7 linked regions of the Homo sapiens genome follow. The protein of the gene in region 5 purifies or fractionates together with the protein of the main gene of each other region. This does not show direct contact. Each region holds a gene or a part of one and is shown on either strand. Other genes may lie near its edges.

Region 1 (2,167 bases), on a different chromosome or scaffold from region 5:
CAGTAGCGGGTCCGAGTCGCTGCAGGGGAGGGGGCGGCGGCTGCGGCTGAGGTCTCCCGCCCCCTCGCTGGCTCACTCGTGGTCCTCAGTCAGCTGCAGGCTGGGGCGCTGGGAACACAGCCAGGAGGTTATGGGGGCTCCCGGAGCACACGCAGCCCTCCCCAGTTCTCTCCCAGAAGAGCTTTGTTCGTAAACTACCTACTTTCTTCTTCTTATTTTTTTAGAGACAGAGTCCAGCTCTGTTGCCCAGGCTGGAGTGCAGTGACAGCGATCATAGTTCACTGCAGCCTCAACCTCCCTAGGCTCAAGTGATCCTCCTGCCTCAGCCTCCTGAGACTCTGGGATTACAGGTAGTATCTGGGACTACAGGTGAAAGCAAACACACTCTGCTCATTTTTGTTGTTGTAGCAGAGATGGGGATTCACTATATTGCCCAGGCTAGTCTCAAACTCTTGTCCTCAAGCCATCCTCCTGCCTTGGCCTCCCAAAGATCTGGGATTACGAATGTGAGCCACCACACCCAGCCAGACTTTGCACTTTCTGTTCCCTGGTTGGATGCCTCTTTCCCCAGATTTCGAATGGCTGGATTTATTTAAATGTCCCCTTCTCAGAGATACCTTCTCTAAACCCCACATCTAAAATAGCCCTGTCATGCACAGTCTGGAATTATCTCATATGTTCACTTGATTTTTGTCCTGTGAAATGAGAGAGGACTTTGTCTGTCTTGTTCATCCTCTTTCCTGGAATGGGGCTCATAAATGAATGGGTGAATGAACAGAATGTCATGGGCTCACAGTCTCCCACCATCTGGATAGACACTGTGATGGCCGTGTACACAGTCCCACAAGTCGAGGTATCCTGTTGTTTTTTGTTTGTTGAGGTGGAGTCTTGCTCTGTTGCCCAGGCTGGAGTGCAGTGGCCTGATCTCGGCTCACTGCAGCCTTCGCTTTCTGGGTTCAAGCGATTCTTGTCCCTCAGCCTCCCGAGTAGCTGAGATTACAAGTGCGCACCATCACGCCAGCCAAGTTTTGTATTTTTAGTAGAGATGGGGTTTTACCATGTTGTCCAGGCTGGTCTAGAACTCCTGACCTCAGGTGATCCGCCTGCCTTGGCCCCGCAAAGTGCTGGGATTATAGGCGTGAGCCACTGCGCCCGGCCAAGGTATCCTGTTTTGATAGCTGTGTACTATACCACTGTACACACACTAATTTGTTTAACCACTTTCCTTTTGATGGATATTTCAGTTATTTGCAGTTTTAAAAATAAATGCCTAGAAGTGGAATTGTTGGGTCCAAGGGCATGAATGTTTGAAACTGGGACAAACACTGCCAGACTGCCCCGGGAACCCCTGAGCCACTGTACTTACTTGCTTCTCCCATATCTTGATCAATGCTGGGCAGTGTTCAACTTAAAAAATCTTTGTGGCTGGGCCCGGTGGCTCATGCCTGAAATCCCAGCACTTTGGGAGGCCAAGGCAGAGGAAGATCGTTTGAGCCAGGAGTTCAAGACCAACCTGGGCCACATAATGAGACCCCATCTCTACAAAAAAATTTTTTAAAAACTTAGCCAGGCATGGTGGCATGCTCTTGTGGTCCCCGCTACTTGGGAGGCTGAGGTGGAGGATGGCTTGAGCCTAGGAGTTCCAGGCTGCAGCGAGCTGTGATTGCACACTGCACTCCAGCCTGGGTGGCAGTGAGACCACATCTCTATTAAAAATAATAATAATAGGGCTGGGCACGGTGGCTCACCCCTGTAATCCCAGCACTTTGGGAGGCCGAGGCAGATGGATCACTTGAGGCCAGGAGTTTGAGACCAGCCTGGCCAACATGGCAAAACTCGTCTCTGCTAAAAACAAAAAAAATACCAAAATTAGCTGGGTGCGGTAGCACATGCCTGTAATCCCAGCTACTCGGGAGGCTGAGACACGAGAATTGCTTGAACCCAGGGGACGAGTTTGCAGTGAGCCAAGATTGCGCCACTGCACTCCAGCCTGGGTGACAGAGCGAGACTCCATCTACAAAAATAAAATAAAATAATAGTAATAATAATAAACGATCTTAAAAAATCTTTGTGGCCTGCGCTGGTGGCTCACACCTGTAATCCCAGCACTTTGGGGGACCAGGGCAGGAGGATCCCTTGAGCCCAGGAGTTTGAGACCAGCCTGGGC
Region 2 (3,582 bases), on a different chromosome or scaffold from region 5:
AAAATAAAATAAAATAAAATAATAAAAAAACCACACCATGACCAAGCAGGTGGGCAGTACTGCTCCATTTCATAGATGAATCTGAGGCCCCAAAAGTTAAAAGCTAGTTCAAGGTTGCTAAGGGGCAGATCTGGGATTTGAACCAGGTCAGCCGACTCCCAGCTTAGTATTCAACCTGGACATTCTGCTGCTTCCTGACAAATTCTGAAACAGTCACTCATAGGGAGCCCAGGTAAGCTGGACCAGCCTTAACCTCCCTCCCGTCCACTCAACCTCCTTCTCTCTCTGAGCAGGCGCTGAAGGGTCAAAGCCTGCCTGGAATGCCCCCCTGTCCTGGTCCCACTGAAGAAGCCACAGGCATCTTCCTTGGGAGCTCCTAGGGCTCAGCCCCGGCCCAGCCACACCTGGCTCCTCACCTGGGGTGTAGCTGGGGCCAGAATGGGTGCCGTGGAGCACAGACACAGTAATGGAGGCCTCCTTGGGGCCCGATCCATTCTCCACACGGCACACATATTCTCCAGAATCAGCTGGTGAGACCTGGGGGAGCCGCAGACGGGAGCCGTGCACCTGGGCCAGGAGGAGCCAGAGGTACGTGAGGACAGGGACGGGGGCTATTGTCACCACTCCCTCAGCCTCAGTGATTCATTCAAACTCTCACTGGCTCTGCTCCGAGCCATCCCATGCTAGAAACTGGGAGGGAGGGAGATGAGGCCTGGCTTCTGCTGGTGGAACGTGTGGGGCAGTGTGCCGCCTCCCCCGCCCAGCGTACAGGCCCCGCCTCCGCCACAGCCCCTGCACCCTGGGTCCCCTGCCATAGGCTCAGGGCCCACATACCTGGGTGTGGGGAGGCAGGCTACCCCCTCGCCTGTACCAGGTGACCTGGGCATGGGCTGACCCTGCCACCACACAGTTGAGGTCGAGTGTTTGCCCTTCTGTCACAGAAGGCGATGAGGACTCAATCTTGACCGGCGGTGGGCTGGCATCTGAGGCTGGGGCCAGAGTAGGGGTCAGCAGGCCCCAGGGGAGCCCTGGCTTGCCCTCCCCACCCCTCCATTCCCAGAGAGTCCGTACCTGAAAGGACAACCACTTGGATCCGGGCCTGGGCAGTGCCTGCAGGGCTGGTGGCCACGCAGAGGTAGAAGCCGGCGTCAGCAGTCGTGATGGCTGGGATGAGCAGTGTCGCGATGTCTGTGCGCTCTGACCGGGCCTGCCGTGGGTGAGATGGGTCAGCTGCCCCAGAGGCAGCTGGACAACGGCTGGCCAGGGGGACAGATAGGGCATAAAAGGGAGAGGCAGGTGCAGGGCCAATATTAGGGCCCAGTGGGGCATGAAGGAGGACAAACGCCAGGCAGCCAAGAGGACGGCAGGGGCTCCCTGCTGGGATGCAGGGGCAGGAGACCACCATCTTGGAGGTGAAGGGAGCCACAGAGGAGGAGGTGGGGTGGGGCGTGAAGGGGGAGGGAAGGTGGCTGGGACTCTCTGCAGAGCCTGTGGGCCTCCTCCTCCTGGGTGGGCCCATCTCCTCACCTGTGGTGGGAGGCTGCCCCCTTCCTTCCTCCAGGTGATGGTGGCGCTAGGCACGCCTGCAGCCCTGCAGTACAGCCTGACGGTGCGGCCTGCGTGGACCTGGGTCCTCTCTGGGCTCACTTGGACTCTGGGCCCACCGCCCCCTGCAGACAGAGTCCTGTGAGAACACGCCCTGGGCTGAGCACACTCCCGGCCCCCACCCTGAGCCCGGCCTCTCACCATGCACGTGGAGCACAGCCCTGGCCACCTGCTGCCCAGCGCTGCTGTGGGCTCGGCACAAGTACTGGGCCTGATCCGTGGGCTCGACAGCTGGCAGGCGCAGGATGCCGCCGTGGATTTGTGCCTTCGCAGGGAGCTGGCCGCCGGGGCCCCCTGACGAGTAGACGTGGGGTCAGCACCCACCAAGCCTGCTCAGAGTCCTGCCCCTCCCCTCCCACACCCAGGAGAGTCAGGCCTTGAATGTCATTCCCATCACGGCCTCACCTGTCCACTCGAGGGTGGGCGTGGGGCTCCCTGTGGCGCTGCAGCGGAACTCCGCCAGTTGCCCGGGCTGCACTGTGAGCTGTGGCGGATGGATGGAGACCACGGGGGCGGACAAGGTGCCCGAGGCTGACAAGGGAGGAAAAGGAACATGCACTCAGGGTGGGGAGTGTCGTCTGACTCACACAACAGTCCTGCTGCCTACTTTCTCTGCTTCCAGGCTAGCCCTCCACGGCCATCTGTGCACACAGGAGCCAGAGGGAGCTTGGGAAATGTCAACAGGACCTTGTGACCTCCCACCTTGAGACCTGTCCATGACTCCCTGTTGCTTTTAGAATAAAATCCAAAATTCCTACCCTGATCCACCACATACTCCATGCTCTCCCGTCTGCCCACACCCGTCCTCCCTCCCACAGCCCCAGCCACGTGGTCTCTGCTGTTCCTCAAACATAGCAACGTGCTCCTGCCTCAGGGCCTTGCCATGTGCTGCTCCCTCTGCCAAGAACACTCTGCCAACTCTCTAACTTGCTCAATGCCTACCTTTCCTTCAGGTCTCAGCTTAGGTGTCACCTCCTCAGAGAGGCCCTCCCTGACTGCCCTATCTAGAGTAGCCCTTGCCTCTCCCACCTTGTTTTATTTTATTTATTTTTCTGAGATGGATTCTTGCTCTGTCACCCAGGCTGGAGTGCAGTGGCGCGATCTCGGCTCACTGCAACCTAAGCCTCCCGGGTTCAAGCGATTCTCCTGCCTCAGCCTCCTGAGTAGCTGGGATTATAGGCACCTGCCACCACACCCAGCTAGTTTTTGTATTTTTAGTAGAGACAGGGTTTCACCTGTTGGCCAGGCTGGTCTGGAACTCCTGACCTCAAGTGATCCACCTGCCTCAGCCTCCCAAAGTGCTGGGCTTACAGGTGTGAGCCACCGCTCCTGGCCTTCTCCCACCTTGTTTCTTGCTTTCTCATCATTCCTAGCCTGGCACTCATCGCCATGTGTAGTTATCTTGCTTGTTCATTTATTCCCATGCTTATGGTCTCCCTGCCTAGGACGTGTACTTCAGGAGGACCGAGATACTGTACATGCTTCTCTCCCCTGCTTCTGCAGAGCCTAGACCAGGACCAGGCATGCAGCAGGTGCTCAGAAATGATCAGCAGAATGAAGAAATGCTGTGCTAATTCTGGTGGGAATGGGGGAGAGACAGGAGGGGAGAATCAGGTATAGATGGGAGGTGTACCCTGCACATGTAGAGTGGCTGTGCCCTGGTCCATGGCAAACATGTTGGAGCCGGTGCACACGTAGGTGCCTGCATCACTCAGCTGGACGTTGCGAATGGTCAGGATGCCATTGAAATCCATGGCTCGGGTGGGCAGTTTCCCGTTGTGCAGGCGGGTCCACACCAGGGTATAGGCTGGGGACTGCAGGGCAAGGCGAAAGGGGGTCATGGGTGGGGCTCAGAGACCCCAGAAGACAGACTTCCTCCATCCCCACTCCCTGACCTGCACACCTTGCTTTTGGCTGTGCAGATGAAGGTGACGTCAGCTCCGGGGCGCACGCTCTGGCTCCGCTGCTCCTCCACAG
Region 3 (3,582 bases), on a different chromosome or scaffold from region 5:
ACCCATCTTAGCTCAAAACCAAACTGCCTCCAAAATGCTGAGGCTGGCTAGGGCAAAGGTTGGCCAATTTTCTGTTTCCAAAATGGAAGGGACAGCGAGCAAGTGGGCTCAGGCACATTCATGCTCACACACACCGGGAGGGAGAAGAACAACACAATCTGAAAACAGCATGCAAATCTGTTAAGCAAATTTCCATTGCCTGGATTAGTCAGATTATAGAACCACAGAGCATTACAAATATCAAATGCATCTGGCCTTCAAGGGGTGGAGGCTGCAGCTAAGGAACGCAAATGGGAACTTACTTGGAACCTGGAAACTGTAAGAAACATTAGCAAAGGAAACTGCCTGGGAGAGGGCTTGGATCCCCACACCACCTCCCGGGCTCCAGCGCTGCCACTGGACCTTAGATCAGGGGCTCTATTGACTAAGGCTGCTACTCTGGTGGGGAGCTGGGACATTTCCCAGCTCTCAGGTCCCAGCCCACATGACAGTGTCCAGAAAGCGGGGATCAAGGAAGGTGGCCACTACTGAGGCCCTATTACGTGCCAGCGTGGGACACTGTTTCGAATAATCCTCCCACAATCTTTTGAGGAAAGCATAGAGATTCTGGTTTTGCAGCCAGGGAAATGAGATTCAGACGGGTTATCGAAGTGGCTCAAGGATGCACTGTGTGAAGGTGATGGAGTGGTGATCTGAACCGGACCTGCCCATGCTCCTTCTGCTCCATCACACAGCCACACGAGAGGCACCCAGGACACCTCTAAGACGACGGAGGCTTCAGCCCTCAGGAGCTGGTGTGATGTTGATGGGGACCCTCTGTCCTCTCCTCTGCCCCCGATGTTGGGCTTTCCTGGCACACCCACAGGCCACAAGGAGCTGGTCAGGAAGGAGGAGGCAGGAGGGCAGGGGAAGGCAGGTACTTACAGCTATGCCGTGGCCGAAGCCCGAGCCCGGCTGTGGGCTGGCCGCACTTATGTAATTCCCCACTCCGGAGTCCTGGCTGGCAGGGCCGTAGAGATCGGCGACAGGTCCTGGGCTGTTGGCCCCCGGGAAGCCTCCGGGCCGCGCCGGGTTGGAGCCTGCCGGGGAAGCGGGCGCGCCAAAATTCGGTTGAGCACTGTAGCTATTCAGGACTGGTGTGCAGAGAATAGAGCTGGGTATGAGGCCAGAAGCCAGGCATGCACCGGTCATTACAAGCCAAACACTTGAGAAAAACAGCTGAGGCCCAACTTCTAACACTCAACCAAGGCCATGCGAAAACATCAGCAGGGACTCAAGAATACTCAGCCCAGGCTACTACTAAGAAGCTTGGAGCTCCAAAAATATAGAGAATAAAAAAACAATCATTCAACACACTACGGCAACCAACCGGAGGTGCTTCACTGCCCACCAAATTATCACAATAGAAATAGAGATATATATGGAAGAGAGAGAGAGAGAGAGAGAGTTTTTTTTTCACATCTGAATTGATGCTCATGCAGTCTTCTAGATCTGGGCACGTTGAGACAGCATTCACATCCCATGCAAACTACAAAGGAACTAGTTTTAGACTACACATTGTGTTAATATTGATATTAAAACGTGACAGGAAACAAAGCAATTTGTGTCCAGGAAAAAAAAAATCTTTGCAGAGGGGATTTTTGATCTTTTTTTGTGTGTGTGTTTCACTTTTTCTTTTTGGTTTTTGGATCCATTAAATGACAAATTTGTTTTGTTTTTTTTTTTAAAAAAGACAAAAAAGATCTCCATTCTCCATCCCACCCCCACCACCCGCCCCTCCCCACTGGCTACTCCCTCCCTTCCCGCCCTTCCCATTCATAACACTGAATGAAAGTCATCAATACTGAACGTGGTCGGAGGATGGGATATGTTATGGAGAGTTTGGGCATCTTGACATAACAGTAATGATGGCGGCAGAGAGTTTCCTTTTGGGGTGGAGAGAAGGGGATGGAGGGAGGGATGGGGGGGAATGGTAAACCTGGAGGCTGGGGCCAGAGCTGGGGTGGAAGCCAATGGTTCTACAGGACACCCACACACTCACCTCCTGCAGGAGAAGGAAAGGGGGGATTTAAACTTTTTTTCCTTTTGTTTAAAAAAAAAAAAGACAAAGAAGTATGAATGCAGAACATACCGACTGAACCAATTCATAGCTAAACCATAGCTGACCAAAACACCTGCTTTCTCTTGGTTATCCTGCAATGTCAACTCCAGAGTGAGAACAGCAGGCTCAGGATGTACCTTTGCTACAGAGAGAGTGGACTTGACACGCACAAATCCAGAGAGTGGTGGGGTTGCAGATCGGGGGGCAGCGGAAGGTGACACTGCCTCGGCCCCCCCAATCCCATCATTCTGACCCTAATGAGGGCCGCAGCCTGTCAACCAGTTAACCAGGTTAATTTTGTCTCACCTTTATTTCTCCTTAGTAGTTTAAACTTTATTTTCTTTTCCAAAATGGAAAACAATATTTTTTTAATTGTTAAAGGAAGTTCTTACTGATTTTTAAGCCTCAAGGTGAGTCTGGGCTGGCTACCTTTGGGCTACGGCTAACCCGTCTTAAAGAACCAGACATTCTGAGAGTCACACTTTCACATCTTTGGCTCCAGAGGGCTGCTCCTTGCAACAATCACTTCTCCCTTCTGCCTCCCTTGGCTTCTCCCCCTCTGCCCTATGACCAGTTGCCTTCAATGGCAGAGGCAAAGAACATCGATGCAGGTGGGGTCACTCCTGGCTTTGGCCCCTCCCTTTCCCAGGGGCCTGTGATTTGAGGCCCTCAGTTCTGGTGGGCCTGGAAGAGCCAGAAGTGGATTGATTTTCACCCACTTGTCACAGGGATGGGAAGAGATTGATGAGGCACCCAAGGCACACTAGCAGGAGACTGAGACAGAGACACAAAGATACACGGGAGACCAAATCAAGCTGGGCCTGGCTCCTGACTCAGCAGAGAAAACAGAACTGAAGCCTCCAGATGCCCTTGGGGCGGGAAGCCCGAAGGTGAGCCCCTCTGAAGCTGTAGCTGAGAAATGAATAAACTGGCCAATGGAAAGAGCAGGTTAAAGAGAAAAGAAAAAAATAAATTATAGAGGCTTAGAGCAAGTGAACGGCTGATCTGGGAATGCGCTGGCAGAAAAAAGGGATGGAGATTTTTGAATATAGAAGATTCAACTTGCAGATAACACTTGGCCCTCTCACTCATGGAGGCAAATATGAAGCCGAGATATTCAAAAGGCGGTATTATCTTAGTCTAACACACTTTTTTTCTTCTGAGCTCAGGAAAACAGAAGAAGCTTGGACAGTGGACTCCTGGTTTTGTCCAGGCAGCTGAAACCCCTCCCTATACAAATAAACTAATTAGCCCGTTCCATTTTAGGCTAATAGGATGGGGTGGGCATGAGGAGGCGCAGTGGTAGACGGAAAGTTTTTTGGCTTCTTTCTTGTCTGGCCGGATGTGAACCCAGGAAGGTGTTGGGCAGGCCCACCTAACTAATGGGTGGGGAGAGGCAGGTTTAGGTTTCCGTTTCTTCCAGCAGGAGAGCCACCTAGAGACTAATCTAGCCAGCAGAAGCAGCCTCGGAGACAGGATGT
Region 4 (3,582 bases), on a different chromosome or scaffold from region 5:
ATAGGTTAGGGAAATGCCTTTACTTTCAAGAGATTCGTATTATGAAATGCAAATATCAACAACCAAAATCTAGACAGCTATAATAAGCCATGCCATAGTGGTTAATGAAAATTACTACAGAATAGCATTTCCCAACCAGGGGTGATTTTATACCTCACCCCCCAAAAGGGGTATTCAGCAATGTCTGGAGACATTTTTGGTTGTCACAAAGGAGATAGGGAGTGCTAGCGGCATTTAGTAGACAAAGGCCAGGGATGCTGCTACACATCCTACAATGGACGGCACAGCCCACAGCAAAGGATTATCCAAAATGTCACCAATGCAAGGCTGAGAAACCCTGCCACAGACATACTACAAGAATGAAAATTATTATTATTACTATTTTTTAAGACAGAGTCTCTGTCTGTCACCCAGGCTGGAGTGCAGTGGCACAATCTTGGTTCACTGCAACCTCCGCCTTCCAGGTTCAAGTGATTCTCCTGCCTCAGCCTCCTGAGTAGCTGGGATTACAGGTGCCTGCCACCACACCTGGCTAATTTTTGTATTTTTAGTAGAGACAGGGTTTCACTATGTTAGCAAGGCTGGTCTTGAACTCCTGACCTCAGGTGCTCTGCCTGCCTCAGCCTCCCAAAATGATGGGATTACAGGCGTGAGCCACCATGCCCGGCGAGAATGAAAATTATTAATAATTGAACAAAGAGGTGAACAGATACGTAATAAAGCAAATATAGCAAAATGTTAACAACCGTATAAACTATGTGATGGGTATATCATGTTCACTGTATAATTTACTTTTCTATGTTAAAAAATTTTCACAATAAAATGTTGAGAGCCAGGCATAGTGGCTCGTGCCTATAATCCCAGCAATTTGGGAAGCTGAGGTGGGAGGACTGCTTGAGCCCAGGAGTTCAACACCAGCCTGGGCAACAGTGAAACTTCATCTCTACAATAAACACAACATAAAATTAGCTGGACGCAATGGCACACGCCTGTACTCCCAGCTACCCACAAGGCTCAGGCAGGAGTATTACTTGAGCCCAGGAGGTAGAGGCTGCAGTGGGCCATGACTGCGCCACTGCACTTCGGCCTAGGAGACACAGCAAGACCCTGTCTCTAAAAAAAAATAAAAACAATCTTCAGTTACCCTCTGAACAAGATAAGTTTGAACTGTGCCCCAAAAATAGGTATTTTGTGTTTGAACTCAAAAAATAAAAAACGTTGGAAAAAAAATGAAGTCCTAATTATATATCCTAATTATATGTTTAGCAAACAAATTTGCAATATAGATAAGCCTAAATTCTTATGGTACTAAAATAATAAAACTGATATAACTTGAGGAACCATCAAGATACTCACTAACACGTTCATGTAGAAGCAAGTAAGGATATTTCAGTATTTCAAGAAGAGGAACTCGAAGCTTATTTTCAAAGTCTTGCCCAGTGATGTCAAACAGTGGCATCTCTCCATTATTGTCTACTATATATAACTCATCATCATCTCCAATTTCTGCCTTCATGGATTTTTCAAAGTGATTTATGAGACGTAAGGTTTCTAATTCCCATAAAACCTAGAGGAAAATAAAATGGGCAGTGTGCGTTATGTCTTATCATCAACAAAATACACTGAATGTGACGACCTAGAAAGCCTTTTCCTAAGTACAAAAATTCTGAAATGTAAAGTATTAGAGCTTGTATTTTAGATTTAAAGAAAACTATTCAAATGTGGCCACTTTTATGAAAAGTGAGTACACAGAGTATGAGATATTGGCTAGGCACAGTGGCTCACAGCTGTAATCCCAGCATTTTGGAAGGCTGAGGTAGGAGGACTGTTTCAGGTCAGGAGTTCGAGACCAGCCTGGGTAGCAAAGCAAGACCCTGTCACTAAAAAAAAAAAAAATAGAAAAATTAGCTAGGTGTGGTGCATGCCTACAGTCCTAGCTTCTCTGGAGGCTGAAGCAAAAGGATCACTTGAGCCCAAGAATCTGAAGCTACAGTGAGCTATGATTGTGCCACTGTACTCCAGTCTGGATGACATAGGGAAACCCTGCCTCTAAGAGAAAAAGAAAACAGGCCAGGCACACTGGCTCCTGCCTGTAATCCCAGCACTTTGAGAGGCTGAGGTGGGCGGATCACCTGAGGTCGGGAGTTCAGAACCACCCTGACCAACACGGAGGAACCTCGTCTCTACTAAAAATACAAAAATAGCCAGGCGTAGTGGTGCATGCCTGTAATCCCATATTCGGGAGGCTGAAGCAGGAGAATCGCTTGAACCCAGGAGGCGGAGGTTGCAGTGAGCCAAGATCACGCCACTGCACTCCAGCCTGGGCAACAACAGGGAAACTCCATCTCAAACAAAAAACCAAACAAACGAAAAAAAACAAGAAAACAAAAAATAGTATGCTATGTTTAAACACTTTTTATTTTTTTTTGAGACAGAATCTCGCTGTCGCCCAGGCTGGAGTGCAATGGCGTGGTCTCAGCTCACCGCAACCTTGGCCTCCCAGGTTCAAGCGATTCTCCTGCCTCAGCCTCCTGAGTAGCTGGGATTACAGGCGCCCACCACCACGCCTGGCTAATTTTTGTATTTTAGTAGAGACGGACTTTCACCATGATGGCCAGGCTGGTCTCAAACTGCTGACCTCGTAATCCACCTGCCTCAGCATCCCAAAGTGCTGGGATTACAGGTGTAAGCTACAGCACTCAGCCTTAAACACTTCTCTTGTAGAAGTTTTCTATAAATATCTCAACATCCCTATCAACTACATTCAAAAAAAAAAAAAAGAGAAGCTGGAGCCTCTCTGTCAAATGCAAAACCGAGGCCCTTCTATGTCTTCCCTTCTATGTTCTAGCCATAGCTAACTACCTTAGTGCAGCTTGTGGTATAAAAGACGCTGGATAGCTTCATAATTAGAAAACTTTATAAAGTGCACGTTTCTCAACACAAGTCCATTACTAATCATCCTCTCCTCTATATACTGTATATATCTCTATGGTCTACGTTCTGTTTTTCATCAATAAATAAACCAAATATTCAAAGCCAAATATTTAGAATTATATCTTTCACTTTTGTTATCATGACTGGAAAATATGCTTGCCCTTAAAGGTTTATGCCATTTGCCCATTAAAAAAAGAAAAAAAGAAGTTATTATTACCAATTAAAAAAAAAAAACCCTGGCCAGGCGCAGTGGCTCACAGCTGTAATCCCAGCACTTTGGGAGGCCGAGGTGGGCAGATCACCTGACGTCAGGAGTTTTGAGACCAGCTGGGCCAACATGGTAAAACCCCATCTCTACTAAAAATAAAAAATTAGCCGGGTGTGGTGGCACGTGCCTTTAGTCCCAGCTACTTGGGAGGCTGAGGCAGGAGAATCGCTTGAACCCACCTGGGAGGCAGAGGTTGAAGTGAGCCAAGATCACGCCACTGCACTCCAGCCTGGACAAGAGAGTGAGACTCTGTCTCAAAAAAAAAACAAAACAAAAAAAAAACAACCCACTAACAAAAACCCAGGCCATTCAGATACTCAGATACATGCATGTATTATAGCACTGACCAAAAAATTATGAAACAAATCCCCTCCCAATGA
Region 5 (2,674 bases):
GACAGAAACTAGCTTTGTGGCCCTCAGCCACCTTGGTGCCATTTGGGGTGAGGATATCATAGTGAGTGAAGATGTCCATGCTGTGGTAATGCCTGTGGGGAGAAGGGAACTTCTGTTTCCTTCTCTGCCCCCAGAAGGTTTGCCCCATCCCCCGTGGTCTTGCCCTTCTACTTGACTCCCTACCCTCTCACCCATGGCACTCGTGCCACACCCAGGAGTGGCGCCCAGCCTTGGGCCTGAAGTCAGCTCGTCCCAGGTTGTGGATCTGGGAGGAGAATCGGAGCAGACGCCGGTGACCATAGGGCCAGTTGGCTGAGCGGGCTGAGCTGGCCAGGCAGTTCTCTTCCGCAGCACAGTACAACATATGCAGGGGCCGGTCTTCGATGTAGGCGGTCTCCTGCACCAGTGCTGAGTGCAGCAACAGATCTGATGCAGCTGCACCAAGAAAGGAAGGGGGTGTTAGAAGTCACTGCTGACTTCACAGAGAGGGGTGCTTCCATCCCTCCCTAGTGTGTAAGACTAGTTTTTTGTTTTTGTTTTTGTTTGTTTGTTTGTTTGAGATGGAGTCTCACTCTGTTGCCGAGGCTGGAATGCAGCGGCGTGATCTTGGCTCACTGCAACCTCTGCCACCTGGGTTCAAGTGATTCTCCTGCCTCAGCCTCCCGAGTAGCTGGGATTATAGGCGCCTGCCACTGCGCCTGGCTAATTTTTGTAGTTTTAGTAGAGACAGGGTTTCACCATCTTGGTCAGGCTGGTCTTGAATTCCTGACCTCGTGATCCATCCGCCTTGGCCTCCTAAAGTGCTGGGATTACAGGCGTGAGCCACTGCACCCGGCGAAACTGGCTCTTTTATGGGGAAGAAGTGCCCCTCCAGATTACAGCCCCCTTTCCCTGCAAACGGGTGGCCCAGACACTCCCTTCCCTGGCATGCATCACCCCCTCCTTCACTCACTCTCAGAACAGATGACTCCAGCAGTGAAGCGGGTCCCTGTCCTCTTGCAGGTGATGTGGGTGCCATGATGGGCACACTGATCCAGGGACAGCTCAGTCCCTGTGCAGCGCACTCCACTCATCACCACCTCTGTTATATTCCCAGAGTCCCAGTACCAGGTCTCCTGGGGACATATGCAGATGTTTCTGTAAGGCCCAGGATCCAGCATCTTGGGCCAAGGGACTCATTCCTCAGCCCTCTGCCCAAAACACAGGCTTTGAGACAACAGCCTCGGCTCCCCTTTCCTTCCCACTCACCTGCAGGCCGTGGTTGGCGTAGCCCAGACCCAGTTGCCTACAGGCCACCATGGCCTCCAGGGTCCCCCAGTCATCCCCACAGATGAGGCCCCAGCGAAGGGGCCCAGGTCCCCCTATTTGCACCTCGACTCGCCCCTCATGTTGGCTGCGGCCCCCACTGAGTCGGATCTGTAGTGACACAGAATGGAAGCGCTGGAGAAAGCTTTGGGGTGAGGTAGTGGGAGTCTCTAACAGATGTGGCTGAAGCGTGACTCAGGCACATAATGGGCTAGCAAGTGATGGGTCAGGTGGGAGCTGCAGGAGGGCAGGGGCCTGGGGCAATGGGCTGGGGGCCATTGGACTGTAGATTGGAGACCAGACCTGGATAGGATGAAAGAGACCTCAACCAAGGTAGAGAGGATGACTGACCCTGGTCTCTGCCCCAGTGTAAGGTAGGTTGCACCGGACCCCGGCATCCTGGCTATGTGAACAATCCTCAGCTGTGATGTTCTTGTGGGGGCACTTCCAGAGGGAGAGCTCCTGTCCAGAGCAGCGAACTTCACTCAGGTGGATAGCACCCATGCCTAGGGCCAGATGGCAAAGATCAGGAAGTTGTAATTAAGCATATATTGTCTGCCCAGGGGACACCTAACCTTCCGAAGGAATATGCCCCCCAGGAGCATGTACCTCCTTCCCTCTCCCTCCCACCTCCATGCCACCTCACCCTGCCCCATGCGAGCGCCACTCAGAGCTTCTCGAGCACTCCCGAAGCCCAGCTCCCGACACACCACGCTGGCTGCATGCAGGTCCCACTTGCGGTCACAGACTGTGCCCCATGTGCTGGCCTTCAGGACTTCTACCCGGCCCTCTCCAGGGTGGGCGCCGCCCTTTAGACGGACACGGGCCTATAGAAGAGAGAAGTGCCCAACAGAGGCAAATGGCAACATCTGCACGGAGGGCTAAGCAGACCTGGGAGATGAGTGAGACTTTGGTGGAAGGGAGTGGGTGGTATCAGGTCTGTGGCCCACCCCCTGGAAGGCTCCTCTCTGTCCTCAAAGGTCAGGGCTGTGCTTAGTCTGGGGTTGCCAGGCTAGGGGTTCTCCACCTGGGGTGGGAAAGGTCATAATCACTGTCTCACACACCTCCCCCTGAGGCTTCGACTGTTGTTGCTTCTTCTGGCCACTGGATGCCGCGTAGACAGGGCCTGGCACACAGCTCACCACTGCAGGGCCCCCCCCAGGGCACCTGGCGGTGTCATTGGCACGATAGAACTCCAGGGAACAGAGGGAGAGGTGGGCCTCCGTGCCCACGCACGCCACCCCATGCAGACCAAAGGAGTGTTGCTGCCGTTGGGCTAGCAGCCTAGGGGGACAGGAGTGAGGTGCAGTAGGGTAAAACAATGCTCCTGCCTCTTGGCCCCACAAACATCCTCCCACTTCATGCCTCC
Region 6 (3,582 bases), on a different chromosome or scaffold from region 5:
ATGGTCAGGGGACTGCTATCTTCACAGTGTTTCCCTAGCACATCTGTTAAAGCCTGTTTAAATGTTAGCAAAAGAAAAGGAAAACTTCAACAGAAGTAACACCTGAAAAATAAGCCTGAAGCACTAAAGGCCGGATATTCTACAATGAAAACCACAGAGATGAGTCTGTTTCCTTACAGATGTTTACCAGCAACAATATCTGGTGAAGCTGCAGGTGCTGACAGGAGCTCAAATCAAGTGAGGAAGGTGAAGGAAGTCAACAGCTCTTACTTATTGTAGTTTATCATTATGGTCAGATAGCTATAGAATCCTGAGTGACTATGTTCTGAAATCACACTAATGTTTGAAAATGGCTGAATGGGACAGAGGAGCTAAATGGGTTTGTTTGTTTGACTGTAGGACTTCTCAGAGTCTTTAAAATGCTGATGGGCACTGTGGCTCTCTAATAGTGGGACCAGACATACGGAATTTCTCAAGTTCATTTAGAAACAGAACTCTTCTTTCAGGGAGTAAGTATCTTTGGAATCTGTGTTGGGAAATGCTTCATTAGTCAGAATTCATTTTTTGAACAAACATTTGCACTGCTACTGTGCACCAGACACCATTAAGTGTGGGGGAGAGTATGGTGAACAACAGAATAGCAGGCAAGATGGAGGGATAAAAAAACAAAATGGGGAAAAAAAAAAAAAAAAAAGCCAGCTACTCGGGAGGCTGAGGCAGGCGAATCACTCGAACCCAGGAGCTGAAGGTTGAAGTGAGCCAAGATCACGCCACAGCACTCCAGCCTGGCGGCAGAGCGAGACTCTCTCAAAAAAAAAAAAAAGAAAAGAAAAGAAAAGAAAAGACGACGACGATGACAAAGCTCTCAGGGACAAGGAGTAGGCTTTCATGAGCTATACATTGAGTCTTAGGACGTTTCCTTTAAGCAACACTTGTAGGCTGAGTCAGCCTCTGGTATCATCAACAAATTAGCTCTAAGGTCGAACATACTTGTCTGGGCACATTTTGATCAGTGATGGTAAATGACTGAAACAGAGCAGCAATAACTTCAGAAGGAGATATTGGGAAACTAAGTTGCTTTGTAATTTAAATTATACTAAATCAGTACCCCAGATTTCCTATTAGACCAAGGGCCTAGTCCTATTTCTACTACTTATTTATAAAATGAGGACGTAGAATGATCTCTCAAGCTCTTTCCAAGTTCTGGTAATTCTACTACTAGCAAGATACTAGACAATCATAATGCAAACTTGGCTAGCACATTACCCAATTCTTGTGTGTGTGTGTGTGTGTGTGTCTCCAGAGATGGAGTCTCACTCTGTTGCCCAGGCTACAGTGCAGTGGCGCAATCTCAGCTGACTGCAACCTCTGACTCCTGGGTTCAAGCATTTCTCCTGCCTCAGCCTCTTGAAGAGCTGGGACCACAGGCGCCCGCCACCATGCCCAGCTAATTTTTGTACTTTTAGTAGAGAAGGGGTTTCACCATGTTGGTCAGGCTGGTCTCAAACTCCTGACCTCAGCTGATCCTCCCACCTCAACCGCCCTAAGTGCTGGGATTACAGGCGTGAGCCACTGCGCCCGGCCCCAATTCTATCTCCTAACAGACAGCTTTAAACTCTTCTATGGCATGTTAAAAGAAACAAGAATAAATAAAAGTACAACATTTGGGCTAGACTGCAATAAGATATTTCTCATGGTAAAGACTTGCTGGACAATGAAGGAAAGCAAAGAGGTTGTAAAAATCACCTTAACTAAGAAGATTTTAAAACAACACTATGCTGGAATACAGTCCCCTGGAAACTGCTTTAATGGCAAAAGGTGAAGCAGATGAAGCACACAGACATGGCACCATGTACTGAGTGCCACACTGCCTTCAAGGTGCTTCTGCATATCTGCTCAAAGGCCTCTAGTTCTCCAGAGTCAATGAGCAAAACCACAGGATGAGGCAGTAATGCCAGCACCCACGTTGGCAGCTCAGGCATGGAGTGTCCACAAAACAGGAAGTGGCAAATAAAAGAGAAGGGTTTCTAGGGAGCCCCACATAAGGATGGGCGCTAGGGCTCCAACTTGCTCCTGGGGGAGCCAGTGGCTAGATGACATTTCAGGGTACCTGCCAACCCTTAGATCTTCTCTCTTTTACTCCTGGAATAGCAACGACTATAATTATCAATATTAATGAGCTTCATTATGGGTTCTTTTAGGGAATAAGATAGAAACTGGTTAAAAAAAAATAGGTTCCCTAAAATCAATCGTACATTCCTTCTCCTTTTTTTAATGGAATCACATTTCCCCTCATTTAACCTTCAACACTTTTCTTGTTCTCCCCATTAAGGTCATTAAAATAAATAACAGTTATCAAAGCTAATGATACATTTTGACTTATCAGGCTCCCTGGAATTCCCACTGCTGGAGGGAACTAGGGATAATCAACTCTAAAACATCTTAATTCATTTTTTTAAAAAAAGGTGAACACTTACTGCAAGTGTATCCAATGCATCAACAAGAGTCAATGAGTAGTTCCCTAGTACATCATTGATGTTCAGATTTGAACTGAAAAAGAAAATTAAAATTCAACAAAAAGACTTTATTTCAAAAGAGAAGACAATAAAAGTAAACACCCATCAGAAACTATAATTGCCAGCAACTCTTATTTATTCAGGAACTAATTATGGGTGAATTAATACAGCAAAGGTCTTTCTACCCCCAAAGTAACACTTTCTATGGTGTCCATAAGTAGAATCAAGTCACAGAACTGTGGAGACACACTTGTACCAGAGTGGAAAGAATGCTCACAGGAAGTCAGGAGGCAGTGAGTCATCTCCTCTCTGAGATTCAGGTTTATCACCATAGACAATCTCCTTGGTCCTGTCCAACTTTAAAAAGCTCTGATTTCACAATCATTAGGAACTAAAGAAGAGCCCTTGTCATACGACCCACCTGTAATACTTTAATACAGAAATTAGACACCACAGCCTATATTACACACAAAAAGAAGTAAATACATTAATTGACAGTGTCAATATTACTCATCTGCCCTATGGTTGGGGGTATAAATTAACTTCTTTACACCATTTCTTCATTAATAACTCATCCAAAGGGTCTTGATTATTTCCGTTAATTCTGAGATATCATTTAACATGAACCTAGGCAGGAATTGAGGCCTTTCTCACTTCTTGACTGGAGCTACATAAACGTTTCTGCCACACACCTCTCACCCCATAATCTACACCAATTTTCCATTCTGAAACAACCTTAAGAAACCAACTTCAGGATGACAAGGGTGAAGCTCCTCAGGCACTGTGGTATGTCTTTGTAACACTTTACAAAAAAGTCAACAACAAAAAAACTAATACATCTGGGAGAATAGGGATGAAGAACTAGTAAAATAAAGGACAGTTTGAGAAATTCTGGGGACTTCATTTATTTATTTGTCCCATTCCCAAAAATCCAGAAAATAAGTGCAGAAGCTTGGAAAAAATGATAGTAAGAGAAGACATAAGACAACTGTTTAAAGATTTTATTAGCAACCAAAGCAAAAAAGCTCCAGTTTTATTTCCAGCAAGATGCATTGATATCTGCAGT
Region 7 (3,582 bases), on a different chromosome or scaffold from region 5:
ACAACCCTATTTCCAAATAAGGTCATTCTGAGACACTGGGATTTAAGACTTCAGCATATCTTTTGCAGGGACACAATATTTTATAGAGGAAAGAAAAATGCCTTATCATAAAATTATTTTGGTACTAAACTAACTCTGAGTCCAAAGATGACTTGCCTTGTACTGAATCCCATTCCTTGGGATAATGGGCTTTTGTTGGGTTCTAGTGGAATGGTTTGAAAGTAATGTTAAAATGGTGGATGTGAAAGACTCTACCAACATTTTTACCAAATGTATATTTATTTGTAATCTATTATATTTATTTGTTGAATAATTTGCATGTATATCTTGATTAAACTACTCATGGAAAATCATAATGCCTTTTTTTCAAGATTTCAAAGCACTTACAGTCTGTTAATTCTGAATGTAGGTAGTTATATAGCATCAATATTAAGCCTCCTTTAAACTAAGACATCAGAGTACCGTCATACTTCTCTTGCTCCTCTTTGTCAATCCATGGGAAAATGAGAATGTTCTTCAGGACTTCGGTTTCTCAAGATGCTTCTCAGACTGGTCAGTGCTTTTCTGGCCTTAAAAATGTATATCTGTTGTTTTGTAAATACTCTAAACATTTTCTGTGACTAGATAAAACATATCCTCTTTACATATTCATGCCATTTGCCAGTAGAGGAAGGAAGCATAGCTTGAAACTTACTACGTTGCTGTTGGTGTTGGGCTTCCTGAGTTCAAATCCTGGTCCCACCACCTACCTGGTGTATGTTTTTTAAAATGGAACCATCTGGCTCACTAGCAGGAAACTAGGGTTAGAGTCCCAAGTGCTATTTTTTAAATTATTTTCCAATAATTCTCCTTCTCTTTGATCATCTTAGAGGCTGTTCGCAGTATTAGAACAGAGATTACTTTTGCAGTTTCATCCCTTTCATAGGGAGCATAGAATACTTATACATGTGACCATATTCTGAAACATTGCCCACTATTCAAACCAAGGTAATTATTATTACCTGAAACATGTAACATTGGCCTTTCATTAATGCAATTTCAAATTTAAATTGATAAATACAATGTATTATCCAATGCAGGAAATGTGAATAAGCTCCTCGTTTTGTTTTTTCTAGGTGAAGATGCCAGATGTGGAGCTCTTTGTTAATTTGGGAGACTGGCCTTTGGAAAAAAAGAAATCCAATTCAAACATCCATCCGATCTTTTCCTGGTGTGGCTCCACAGATTCCAAGGATATCGTGATGCCTACGTACGATTTGACTGATTCTGTTCTGGAAACCATGGGCCGGTGAGAGATAAGTCAGGGTTGGCCCAGAGCCTTGGTTTTCTTTCTTTGGTGAGTTCTTTTGCAACAACCTTTGTGATATGATGATTTGGGAGGAAAATCTGTTGCACTTTGTCTTCTAGGGTAAGTCTGGATATGATGTCCGTGCAAGCTAACACGGGTCCTCCCTGGGAAAGCAAAAATTCCACTGCCGTCTGGAGAGGGCGAGACAGCCGCAAAGAGAGACTCGAGCTGGTTAAACTCAGTAGAAAACACCCAGAACTCATAGACGCTGCTTTCACCAACTTTTTCTTCTTTAAACACGATGAAAACCTGTATGGTCCCATTGTGAAACATATTTCATTTTTTGATTTCTTCAAGGTATGACTTAATCAGTAGCTAATCTTTTTTGTTTTTCTAATGTATTTGTACATAGTGCTTTGGGAAGGGAAATTAAGGCCTGCAAATTTCAAGAGGTGGGAGAAGTTAGCACAAAATTGAGCGAATATTGAGACATGGGGGTGCTGGGGACTGTTTTGGCAACCAGGGTCTGCCCTCACTGCCCAGTCTTGATATTAAATGCGCATCAAGGGAGTTTGGAGCCTGGATAGAGCTATAATTTTTTTCCAGCTAACCCTTGAGATAAGCACATGTCACCTCCAAATATGTTTTTATTAATACTTACATGTAAGTCATTTTACAAATACTTTTTCCCAGAGCCATGTTATCACAACAGAATAAGGAAGATATAAACTACTTGTTTCTTACCAGGCCTTCTGGTGGGGAATGACGTGAAACTCATCCAAATGTTCTGTCTGGGAATTAGGGTTTGCTTTCTCTGTCTAGAATGTGGATTCCGCATGGTTCCTGGGGAGTAGTCCTTTTTCTAACAACTCCTTTTATAAGGCAGTGGGCACCACCCTGCTCTTTAGACCATGGAGTTGTTTCTGAAGTCCCCCATGGTAGAGAGAGAGGTGGGAAAAAGGTCATCATCTGTCCTCTGTATGTGGGAAGACAAGTGATTAACGAGTTCTGTCTGCCCTGTAGATGACCAAATTTTCTTTTGATGGGTTTTGTTGAGGCAGGTTGACCTAAATGTTAACCTTGTTCAATGTTAAAGTTGAATTGTCAGTATTTTTCTATATGCATATCCCAAAGATTTTTGAAAGAAATGATTATAACCAAAGTGAAAGGATACTAGCCAACCTTCCTCAGTGGAGGGGTGCTCCATCCTGCCTTGGCTTTATTCCTGCCTGTTGAATTTTCTGCAACTAAAGATGATAGATTACCACAGTTCTATGAATATTTTTATTCATAGGTGTTCTTGCTCCAGAGCTTGCTAATTTCTTTAAGACATATGTCTGGGTGTTTAAAAAATACGGTTAGCCAGGCGTGATGGCTCACGCCTGTAATCCTAGCACTTTGGGAGGCTGAGGCAGGCAGATCACCTGAGTTCCAGGGTTCGAGACCAGCCTGGCCAACATGGTGAAACCGCATCTCTACTAAAAATACAAAAATTAGCTGGGCGTGGTGGTGCGTGCCTCTAATGCCAGCGACTGGGGATGCTGAGGCACAAGAATCACTTGATCCCAGGAGGTGGAAGTTGCAGTGAGCTGAGATCACGCCACTACACTCCAGCCTGAGTGACAGAGCAAGACTCTGTCTCAAAATAAATACATAAATAATACGGTTAACATGGCTCAGAATATGCCATCATTAGGGGCACATTTGCAATCAATAAAGTAGCAGGAGAATTACAAAAAGTCACAAATGAATCCATCCTTCCTTATGTTGCAGCCTTAGGACAGCAGTATGATTGTATTCGCTGCTTCAACACTAGATTTGTATCCTTTGTAAAATTGAGAAGCACATCAAAATGAGCATTTAGCTCTAGATCAACCTGTTGTTTAATAACACTTACTAAACGGCAAAGGCAGAGCGTGGAAGCTGACCAAATTGTGTCTGAGGATTGCAAAGGTTTATGTGTGGGATGGGAAGGAGAATAGAGTGGAGAAAAGGAGATTTAATAGAGGTTCTTAGACTTTACCATTGTTTTGCAGCATAAGTATCAAATAAATATCGATGGCACTGTAGCAGCTTATCGCCTGCCATATTTGCTAGTTGGTGACAGTGTTGTGCTGAAGCAGGATTCCATCTACTATGAACATTTTTACAATGAGCTGCAGCCCTGGAAACACTACATTCCAGTTAAGAGCAACCTGAGCGATCTGCTAGAAAAACTTAAATGGGCGAAAGATCACGATGAAGAGGTAAGGTTAGTCCCCTTGAAGGCTTATTTCCACTTGTTTCCCAATATC

The links.
Region 1: the proteins of LOXL3 (region 5) and MSI1 purify together in Homo sapiens (affinity purification with mass spectrometry; 2 studies listed by BioGRID and IntAct, with this or other methods). This does not show direct contact.
Region 2: the proteins of LOXL3 (region 5) and HSPG2 purify together in Homo sapiens (affinity purification with mass spectrometry; one large-scale study listed by BioGRID and IntAct). This does not show direct contact.
Region 3: the proteins of LOXL3 (region 5) and MSI2 purify together in Homo sapiens (affinity purification with mass spectrometry, with the first as the bait; one large-scale study listed by BioGRID). This does not show direct contact.
Region 4: the proteins of LOXL3 (region 5) and SETX purify together in Homo sapiens (affinity purification with mass spectrometry; one large-scale study listed by BioGRID and IntAct). This does not show direct contact.
Region 6: the proteins of LOXL3 (region 5) and EDEM1 purify together in Homo sapiens (affinity purification with mass spectrometry; 2 studies listed by BioGRID and IntAct, with this or other methods). This does not show direct contact.
Region 7: the proteins of LOXL3 (region 5) and POGLUT2 purify together in Homo sapiens (affinity purification with mass spectrometry, with the first as the bait; one large-scale study listed by BioGRID). This does not show direct contact.

The regions. Positions count from the first base shown.
Region 1 is NC_000012.12:120,342,998-120,345,164, forward strand, and holds part of MSI1 (RNA-binding protein Musashi homolog 1), read right to left. Parts: intron 109-2,167; 3' UTR 1-108. UniProt on the Homo sapiens protein: RNA binding protein that regulates the expression of target mRNAs at the translation level. Regulates expression of the NOTCH1 antagonist NUMB.
Region 2 is NC_000001.11:21,853,777-21,857,358, forward strand, and holds part of HSPG2 (basement membrane-specific heparan sulfate proteoglycan core protein isoform b precursor), read right to left. Parts: coding exon 3,509-3,582; intron 3,420-3,508; coding exon 3,239-3,419; intron 2,137-3,238; coding exon 2,011-2,136; intron 1,900-2,010; coding exon 1,747-1,899; intron 1,671-1,746; coding exon 1,528-1,670; intron 1,208-1,527; coding exon 1,072-1,207; intron 990-1,071; coding exon 835-989; intron 568-834; coding exon 417-567; intron 1-416. UniProt on the Homo sapiens protein: Integral component of basement membranes. Component of the glomerular basement membrane (GBM), responsible for the fixed negative electrostatic membrane charge, and which provides a barrier which is both size- and charge-selective.
Region 3 is NC_000017.11:57,672,469-57,676,050, reverse strand, and holds part of MSI2 (RNA-binding protein Musashi homolog 2), read right to left. Parts: intron 1,134-3,582; coding exon of another isoform or gene 1,080-1,133; coding exon 925-1,079; intron 1-924.
Region 4 is NC_000009.12:132,344,905-132,348,486, forward strand, and holds part of SETX (probable helicase senataxin), read right to left. Parts: intron 1,568-3,582; coding exon 1,357-1,567; intron 1-1,356. UniProt on the Homo sapiens protein: Probable RNA/DNA helicase involved in diverse aspects of RNA metabolism and genomic integrity.
Region 5 is NC_000002.12:74,534,340-74,537,013, forward strand, and holds part of LOXL3 (lysyl oxidase homolog 3 isoform 1 precursor), read right to left. Parts: intron 2,590-2,674; coding exon 2,370-2,589; intron 2,133-2,369; coding exon 1,952-2,132; intron 1,812-1,951; coding exon 1,657-1,811; intron 1,417-1,656; coding exon 1,249-1,416; intron 1,116-1,248; coding exon 953-1,115; intron 436-952; coding exon 192-435; intron 93-191; coding exon 1-92. UniProt on the Homo sapiens protein: Protein-lysine 6-oxidase that mediates the oxidation of peptidyl lysine residues to allysine in target proteins.
Region 6 is NC_000003.12:5,194,177-5,197,758, reverse strand, and holds part of EDEM1 (ER degradation-enhancing alpha-mannosidase-like protein 1), read right to left. Parts: exon of another isoform or gene 2,794-3,582; intron 2,551-2,793; coding exon 2,478-2,550; intron 1-2,477. UniProt on the Homo sapiens protein: Extracts misfolded glycoproteins, but not glycoproteins undergoing productive folding, from the calnexin cycle.
Region 7 is NC_000013.11:102,788,964-102,792,545, reverse strand, and holds part of POGLUT2 (protein O-glucosyltransferase 2 isoform 1 precursor), read left to right. Parts: intron 1-409; exon of another isoform or gene 410-537; coding exon of another isoform or gene 538-552; intron 553-1,115; coding exon 1,116-1,288; intron 1,289-1,407; coding exon 1,408-1,645; intron 1,646-3,324; coding exon 3,325-3,534; intron 3,535-3,582. UniProt on the Homo sapiens protein: Protein glucosyltransferase that catalyzes the transfer of glucose from UDP-glucose to a serine residue within the consensus sequence peptide C-X-N-T-X-G-S-F-X-C. Can also catalyze the transfer of xylose from UDP-xylose but less efficiently.